2 separate regions of the Homo sapiens genome follow, and region 1 is linked to region 2. Evidence: fine-mapped expression QTL. A gene starts in region 2. The other region holds a variant in brackets. All regions are shown on one strand. Distances are between the middles of the regions.

Region 1 (4,197 bases), 110 kb before region 2:
TTACACGCCTGCGCACACGGTGAGCACACGCGCCCGTGCACTGTTTACACTCGCCTGCGCACACGGTGAGCACACGCGCCTGTGCAGTTTACACTCGCCTGCACAGTGAGCACACACACCCGTGCACTGTTTACACTCGCCTGCGCACACGGTGAGCACACACGCGTCCGTGCACTGTTTACGGTCGCCTGCACACACACAGCACACATGCCCATGCACTGTTTACAGACGCCTGCGCAGTGAGCACACACGCGCTCGTGCACTTACACTCGCCTGCGCACACAGTGAGCACACACGCGCCCGTGCACTGTTTAAACTCGCCTGCGCAGTGAGCACACACGCGCCCGTGCAGTTTACACTCGCCTGCGCACAGTGAGCACACACGCGCCTGTGCAGTTTACACTCGCCTGCGCAGTGAGCACACACGCCCGTGCACTTACACTCGCCTGCGCACACAGTGAGCACACGCGCCCGTGCACTGTTTACACTCGCCTGTGCACAGTAAGCACACGTGCCCGTGCAGTTTACACTCGCCTGCGCACACAGTGAGCACACACGCGCCCGTGCACTGTTTACGCTCGCCTGCGCAGTGAGCACACGTGCCCGTGCAGTTTACGCTCGCCTGCGCACACAGTGAGCACACACGCGCCCGTGCAGTTTACACTCGCCTGCGCAGTGAGCACACACACGCCCGTGCACTGTTTACAGACGCCTGCGCACAGTGAGCACACGCACCCGTGCACTGTTTACACTCGCCTGCGCACACGGTGAGCACACGCGCCCGTGCAGTTTACACTCGCCTGCGCACAGCACACACACCCGTGCACTTACACTCGCCTGCGCACACGGTGAGCACACGCATCCGTGCACTGTTTACGCTCGCCTGCACACACACAGCACACACGCCCGTGCAGTTTACAGACGCCTGTGCACACAGTGAGCACACATGCCCATGCACTGTTTACAGATGCCTGCGCAGTGAGCACACACGCCCATGCACTATTTACAGATGCCTGCGCAGTGAGCACACACGCGCCCGTGCACTGTTTACACTCTCCTGCGCACACAGCACACACGCACCCCTGCACTGGCTGTGTTTACAGACGCCTGCACACACAGTGAGTGCACACATGCCCGTCCTCTGTGAGCTATGGCACCCAGGACCACGCAGCCCACCCAACACCCAGGCCTCAGTTCCTAATATTCAGTAAGGACCCAAGGCTCTTGGAGAAGGGGCTGATTCCAGGACCAGGGTGGGGAGTGGACAGGAGGAGCCTGGAGCATCCCGCAGTGCTAGGAAGTCAGGATGTCCTCAGAAAAACAAAACGAAAAGCCAAGAACTCCGTGAGGGTGTGTGAAAGCAATACAGGAACCACGTGGAAATTCCTTTTGGCAAAAGAATTTGGGCACCACGATAAATAGAGCAGCGCTGAAATAAATATGCAAGTGTAAGACAAGTATCTGTACGTCCACACTGATATAAATAAATACATGATGGAATAACTAATGGTAGAGAAGCAGGATCTCTCCCATGCACAAGAATTCCTGGCAACGTGCAGACGCCACACACCAAGGGGGGCAACGAAACTCCCCTCCCTCCATGCAGGCTGCACCAGTGACCTCCTTGTGGAGAATGCACTATGGATTGACAGTGGAAAGCCTGACAGACACATCTCGCCAGGCAGTCAAGGTCCACAGCGCCAGGGATACGTCATGGTGATGGTGCCAGTGCGCGCCTTCACCCCAGACAAATACTGAGAAAACGTCAGACATCCTCACAAACCCTGGTGCCAAAGCCAGAACAAGACATTCCAGGAAAATTAAAGGACAGTACCTCTTACAAATATGGATGCAAAAATCTTAGATAAAATGCTAGGAAAGCAAGTCCAGCAGTATGTAAAAAGGCACACCCTGGGACCCAGCAGGATTTATCCCAGGAATGTAAGGTTGGTTCAGGATAAGAAAATCAATCAATGTAATTCATCATATTAACAAAGGGGGAAAA[AC/C]ACCCATATGATCATCTCACTTGATGCGAAAAATCATTTAACAAAAATCTAACAACTTTTCATGATAAAAACACTCAACCAACTAGGAATATACTAGAACTTTCTCCACTCAGTAAGGGAGATCTACGAAAAACTCACAGAACCTTCTCCCCTCAGTAGGGAGATCTACGAAAAACTCACAGAACCTTCTCCACTCGGTAGGGAGATCTACGAAAAACTCACAGAACTTTCTGCACTCGGTAGGGAGATCTACGAAAAACTCACAGAACCTTCTCCACTCGGTAGGGAGATCTACGAAAAACTCACAGAACCTTCTCCACTCGGTAGGGAGATCTACGAAAAACTCACAGAACCTTCTCCACTCGGTAGGGAGATCTACGAAAAACTCACAGAACCTTCTCCACTCGGTAGGGAGATCTACGAAAAACTCACAGAACCTTCTCCACTCGGTAGGGAGATCTACGAAAAACTCACAGAACCTTCTCCACTCGGTAGGGAGATCTACGAAAAACTCACAGAACCTTCTCCACTCGGTAGGGAGATCTACGAAAAACTCACAGAACCTTCTCCACTCGGTAGGGAGATCTACGAAAAACTCACAGAACTTTCTGCACTCGGTAGGGAGATCTACGAAAAACTCACAGAACCTTCTCCACTCGGTAGGGAGATCTACGAAAAACTCACAGAACTTTCTGCACTCGGTAGGGAGATCTACGAAAAACTCACAGAAACTTCTCCACTCGGTAGGGAGATCTACGAAAAACTCACAGAACCTTCTCCACTCGGTAGGGAGATCTACGAAAAACTCACAGAACTTTCTGCACTCGGTAGGGAGATCTACAAAAAACTCACAGAACTTTCTCCACTCGGTAAGGAGATCTATGAAAAACTCACAGCTAACACACTCAGTGGGATAAAGACTGGATGCTTTTCCCCTAAGATCAGGAATCAGATAAGAATGTCCATCTGGCCAGGCACAGTGGCTCATGCTTATACTCCCAGCACTTTGGGAGGCCAAAGGGGTCAGACCGCTTGAGCTCAGGAGTTTGAGACCAGCCTGGCCAACATGGCGAAACCTCATCTCCACAGAAAGTTAAAAAATTAGTCAGGTGCGGTGGCTCACTTGAGACCAGGAGTTCTGAGACCAGCCTGGCCAACACGGTGAAACCCCGACTCTACTAAAAATACAAAATTAGTCGGGTGTGGTAGCATGTTCCTGTAATCCCAGCTACTACGGAGGGTGAGGCACGAGAATCGCTAGAACCTGGGAGGCGGAGCTTGCAGTAAGCCAAGATCGTGCCACTGCACTCCAGCCTGGGCGACAGAGCAAGACTCCGTCTCAAAAAAAAAAAAAAAAAGCCCATCCTTGCCTATTCTAGGAAACATTGAGCTGGAGGTTCTGGGCAGGGCAGCTACGCAAAGAAGTAAAAGACATCGGCCGGGCACGGTGGCTCATGCCCATAATCCCAGCACTTTGGGAGGCCAAGGTGGGCGGATCACCTGAGGTCAGGAGTTCAAGACCAGCCTCAACATGGAGAAACCCTGTCTCTACTAAAAATTAAAAAAAAAAAATTAGCTGGGCATGGTGGTGCATGCCTGTAATCCCAGCTACTCGGGAGGCTGAGGCAGGGGAATTGCTTGAACCTGGGAGGCGGAGGTTGCGGTGAGCCAAGATCACACCACTGCACTCCAGCCTGGGCAACAAGAGCAAAACTCAGTCTAAAAAAAAAAAAAAGAAAAGAAATAAAAGACATCTAGATTGGAAAGGAACAGGTAAAACTATCTCTATTTGTAGATGACATAATCTTGAATATAGAATATTCTTAAGAGTCTACCCCAAAACACCACAACTATTAGAGCTAATCAGTTCAGCACGGTTGCAGGACGCAAGATCAGTACACAAAAATGAGCTACATTTCCATACATGAGTAACGAGCAATGCAAAAGTAAAATTAAAACAGTTCCACTTACAAGAGCACACAATGAACAAAATAATTGGAGTAAATGTAATAAAGGAAGTACAAAACTTAAACTCTGAAAACTGTAACACATTGTTGGAAGAAATTAAAGACCTAAATAAATGGAAAGCCATCCCATCTTCAAGGACTGACGGAGTTAATATTGTCAGGATGACACTACTCCCAAAACAGACTTGCAGATTCGATGCAATCCCCATAAAAAATTCCACCTG
Region 2 (4,197 bases):
TGGGGAGGCAGTAGAGATGTCCACAGGCAGATCTGGGAAGGGTCCCCCAGGGCTCCCCTGACTTGGGCCCCAGGTCCCCCGACAGAACAGTCTGCTCACTCGCCCTCTCCCTGGGCAGCTGTTGGGCTCCTCTGGTCCTGGCCCTAGCCTCAGAGGTAGCAAGTGTACAGGTGCCCTGGGGCGGAGCTGGCTTAGCCTCAAGGGGTCCTTGGAAGAGGGGTCCCTATGCCTCCGCCCCCTCCTGGTTGGGCTTAGACCCCTGCGCTGCTCAGAAAACCACAGAGGAGCCTGCAGAGGGGGCTGGTTTTGTTCTGTGTCACTGGGCCAGCTGTGGATCCTGCCCTGTCTGCTGATAGCTGGGGTGGGGCTTTTTAGGGATTCAGCAGTATCGGGGGTCTCTTGAGGGTGTGGAAGCTGTGAGGTATGTGGGTTGGGACAAGCCCCAGACCCTTGGCCTGTGTGGGTCCAGGCGTCCCGGTACAGGAAGAGAACACAGGGGCTTTGGCAGGTGGAGTGGCCCAGGAGTCCCCAGCCAGTATCATTGTTCTGCCCCCTCAGGACACCTGGCTCCCTGGAAAAGGCTCAGAGGCAGCCAGCTGGGGTCTCTCCTGGTCTGGGCATGGCACTAACCTCCCTCCTCCAGAGGGGGCATTCTGCCCCACCTTCTCCCCCAACCCCACCGCCAGGCTTTCATCTGCGCCTTCCTGTCTGGAATGCTCTTTCCCCCAAAGGTGTATGTCAAAGATCACCATCTCCAGGAGGCCCTACCCCGGCTGGCTCACCGTGACCCCATCTGCTTTGTTTGTGGGTTGGGGTTGGGAGAGTTTACGCCAGGCTCCCCAAGCTGGGCCCCATCCCTACGCATGGACCCCCACAACACTGGCACAGTTCACCGAAGGCGCCCCCGCCGGGAAGCGTCCCAGCTGCACCGGCCACTTCAGCAAGCCCCGGCCCGGGTCCCCAGCACACAGGGAAACTGAGGCCCTGCTAAGCGGGCAGGGGGTGGAGGCGAGGCCTGAGAAGGCCTCTTGGAAGCCTCAGCAGGGTCTAGGGGCAGAGACTTCCCCAGGAGCCCACCGTCAGCCCCTCACTACCGGATCCAAGCCAGATCCCAGAGTCAGGGACCCTCTCTGGGAGGGTCGCGCGCGTCACTGCCGACGTCATCGAGCGTCCGGGCCGAGCCGAACCGCGCCCCCTCCCCCCAAATCGCAGAGCGGAGAACAGCGGGCGGGGTCTCCGGGAGGGTCGGGCCCAGCCGAGACCTCTGTGCGGTGGGAGGCCCGGCCCGCGCCCCGGGGCCCCCGCCGCCCGCGCCGCCCGCGCCCCCCGCGCCGCCCGCGCCCCCCGCGCCCCCCGCGCCGCCCCCGCCCCCCGCGCCCCCCGCGCCCCCCGCGCCGTACCTCGCCCGTAGCCCAGGCGCTGGCGCAGCGCGCGTCCCTGGCGCACCAGGCCCAGGTGCACGTAGGTGAGCCACGCGGCGCAGCTCAGCAGCAGCAGCAGCAGCAGCAGCTTCATCTGCTTACGGATCTTCTTCACCGGGAGCCGCGGCATCGCGGCCGCCGCGCCCGCCCCAGGCCGCGCTCAGCGGCGCCGCTGCAGCCCCCGGCCCCCGCCCGCCCCGCGCCGCATCCCCGGCCCGCCCCGCCGCGCTCAGCGCCCGCGGCCCCGCATGGTCCTTTGTCCGCCGTGCGCGGCCACCGGGTGCGGCCGCGACCCCCCCAGGCCGCCCTCGGCCGCGGGCCCGGGGTGGGCGGCGGGGGCGGCTCCTCGCGGTGCCCCCCGCCCGGCCGCTCCCGGCTCCGCGCTCCTGGGGCGGCGGCGGGACCGAACAGCATCCACGGCTGCCACCGCGGATCGGGCCCCGGCCGCGCGCGCGGAACCAATCGGACCGAGCCAGGCCGCGGGGAGCCAATGGCGGCGCGCGGGGAGGGGTGCGGGGCGCGGGAAGGCGGGGCGGGGCGCGGGGTGCGGGGCGGAGGAGGCGGGGCGAGGGGAGGCGGGGCGGGGCGGGGGGTGCGGAGGGTGCGGGGCGGGGGGTGAGGGGTGCGGGACGGACAGGGATGCGGGGCGCGGGGCGCGCGTCCACCTGGGCCACGGAGCGCGGGGGCGCGGCACACAGACGCGGGGCTGGGAAGCGCTGGGGCTCGGGGACCGTGGGGGGCGGCGGGGGATGGGCACAGCCTGACTGTGGGGCGGGGCGGCCTCCCGAGAACAGTGACCCGAAGGACTGCAGGCGGACAACACGGAGGAGGGAGGGGAGGGACCCGGGGTCCTGGGGGGCGGGGAATGGGGGCGGGCGAGAGAGGCCGGGGGGCGGGGGGGCCCAAGCACCGGCTTCAGCCCAGGGGTGGGAGTCGTTGCGGGATCTCAGCCTGCAGGGCTGGGGCCGCAGGGGGCCGAGCTGTCTGGGCGGCAGGAGGGGCCTCAGCTGGTGGCCCCCGCCCCACCGAGCGCGGCCTGAGGCAGGTGACAGTGTCGTGCCTCTCACCGGGACCTTGTCCCACTTCGTGCCCTTTCTCACCTGGTCTGCACCAACCCCTGCCAGTCCCTCTGTCCCCCCAGTACTTCCCTTGTCCAGCTGCCAGCGTGACCCTACTCTTCTCCCTCTGTCTGCTCAGCTGTCTCTGGGTGTGTAGCAAACCGCCCAGCTTCAGTGCTGTCCAACAGCAGCGTTCCTGTGTTCCTGTGTCCTGTGGGTCAGGAACTCAGGGCACTCGGGGACAGCTCCTCTCTGCTCCTCGAGGTGCTGGCCTCCGGTGGGAAGACGTGAGTGGTGGGGCCGGCTCCGCGGGACAGGCTGGAGCCATCCAGAGACTTCTGCCCCAAGCCAGTGCACCCTCGGCAGGAATGGCTGGGCTCACCCCGGGTGGTTGGCCAGAGCGCCTGCAGGCTCAGCTGCCAGGGGCAGCCTCCCGGTCCAGCACACAGAGTGAAGCATCTTGGAGTCACCCCTCAGGTTTGCCACATGCCGCACGGCCACCCAAGTTCGTGGGTTGTGGGGACGTGGACCCCACCTCACAATGGAAGATTGCCCAGAAGTTGCCTTCTTAAGACCTCAACTCCTTCCCTCCTTCCCCTCCATCCTCCTCCCCTAACTTCTGAGCACAGAAGCAAGCTGGTTACATCCTGCTGTTCATACCGGCCCTTAAACAACACCCGGTCTCTCAAACCTTCCCCCACCCCATCAGCTCCTCATCTCCTGCCTCCTGCAGTCCACTTTTCATATTTCTGTTATCTGCATATTCATTAAAATATAGTGCCCCACCCCTTTTTGAGACAGGGTCTCACTGTGTCTCTGAGGCTAGAGTGCAGTGGTGCAATCTCAGCTCACAGCAGCCTTGACCTCCTGGGCTCAAGCGATCCTCCCACTTCAGGTTCTTGAGGAGCTGGGACTACAGGCATGCATCACCATGCCGGACTAATTTTTTGTATTTTTTTTTTTAACAGATTCAGGGTCTCACCATGTGTCCCGGGCTGGCGTTGAACTCCTGGGCTCAAGTGATCCTCCCGCCTTGGCCTCCCAAAGTGCTGGGATTCCAGGCGTGAGCCACTGTGCCCGGCCAGTGGTGCTCTTTTATGTGTCTCATTCTGTTTCTCCAAGTCCCATATTTTCTATGTGCATCTGTCTGGCTGTGCGTCTAATGCTTTCCCTCTTTCCACTGCATGGCACCCCATCCTAGGCACATTCATCCAGCCAGTGGACGCTACCTAGTATTCTAGTGTCCTGACGAGCCAGGGACTTAGGGGACACAGCAGTGAGCAAGACAGAAAAGGGCCCTCCTTTCATGGAGTTTACATGTTACTAGGCAGGGACAGACCAGTGAACGCATAGTCGCTTTGCTGGTGGTGAGTGACGTGAAGGAGATGAGCTGGGTGATGGAGGGAGGCCGGCTCCCGCTCCAGGGTCGCTCTCTGGGGAGGCAACGGCTGGCCTGACCCGTAAACAGGTTCTTAGAAGGCAAGTGTTGGCAATGTCGGGAGAGACGTGTTTGGGACACTTCATGGGTCCACAGTCAGAGGGTGTCCCCTGTGGATCCAAAGCATAGTAGGTACAATTGAGGGGCGAGCTGGGATCTGCCGGACGCAGATGCTCCATATGCTACCACATCCGTCTCGGCCCCTTCTGGAGAAGAACGGCCACCGCCTCACTTCGGTGTGACCCAGCCACAGAGGAGAAGGTTCTGGGAAATGGGTCTC

The links. PIP is the estimated chance that this variant, and not a neighbour inherited with it, causes the effect. A credible set is the group of variants that fine-mapping cannot tell apart.
Region 1: its variant is the best candidate, but not a certain one, in a credible set for the expression of B4GALNT4 in whole blood (TOPMed, PIP 0.74).

What each region holds. Positions count from the first base shown.
Region 1 is chr11:481,391-485,587 of GRCh38, reverse strand. The region is part of intron 4 of PTDSS2 (phosphatidylserine synthase 2); the gene reads right to left. Among named protein-coding and RNA genes, the nearest start is that of RNH1, 24 kb to the left of the region's middle. RefSeq lists an enhancer at 730-1,251. The variant AC/C (reference allele first, on the strand shown) is at 2,006.
Region 2 is chr11:367,158-371,354 of GRCh38, reverse strand. B4GALNT4 (beta-1,4-N-acetyl-galactosaminyltransferase 4) reads right to left here and starts at 1,856. Exons shown (of 20, transcript NM_178537.5): 1 at 1,401-1,856. The coding sequence starts at 1,551. RefSeq lists an enhancer at 2,785-3,323.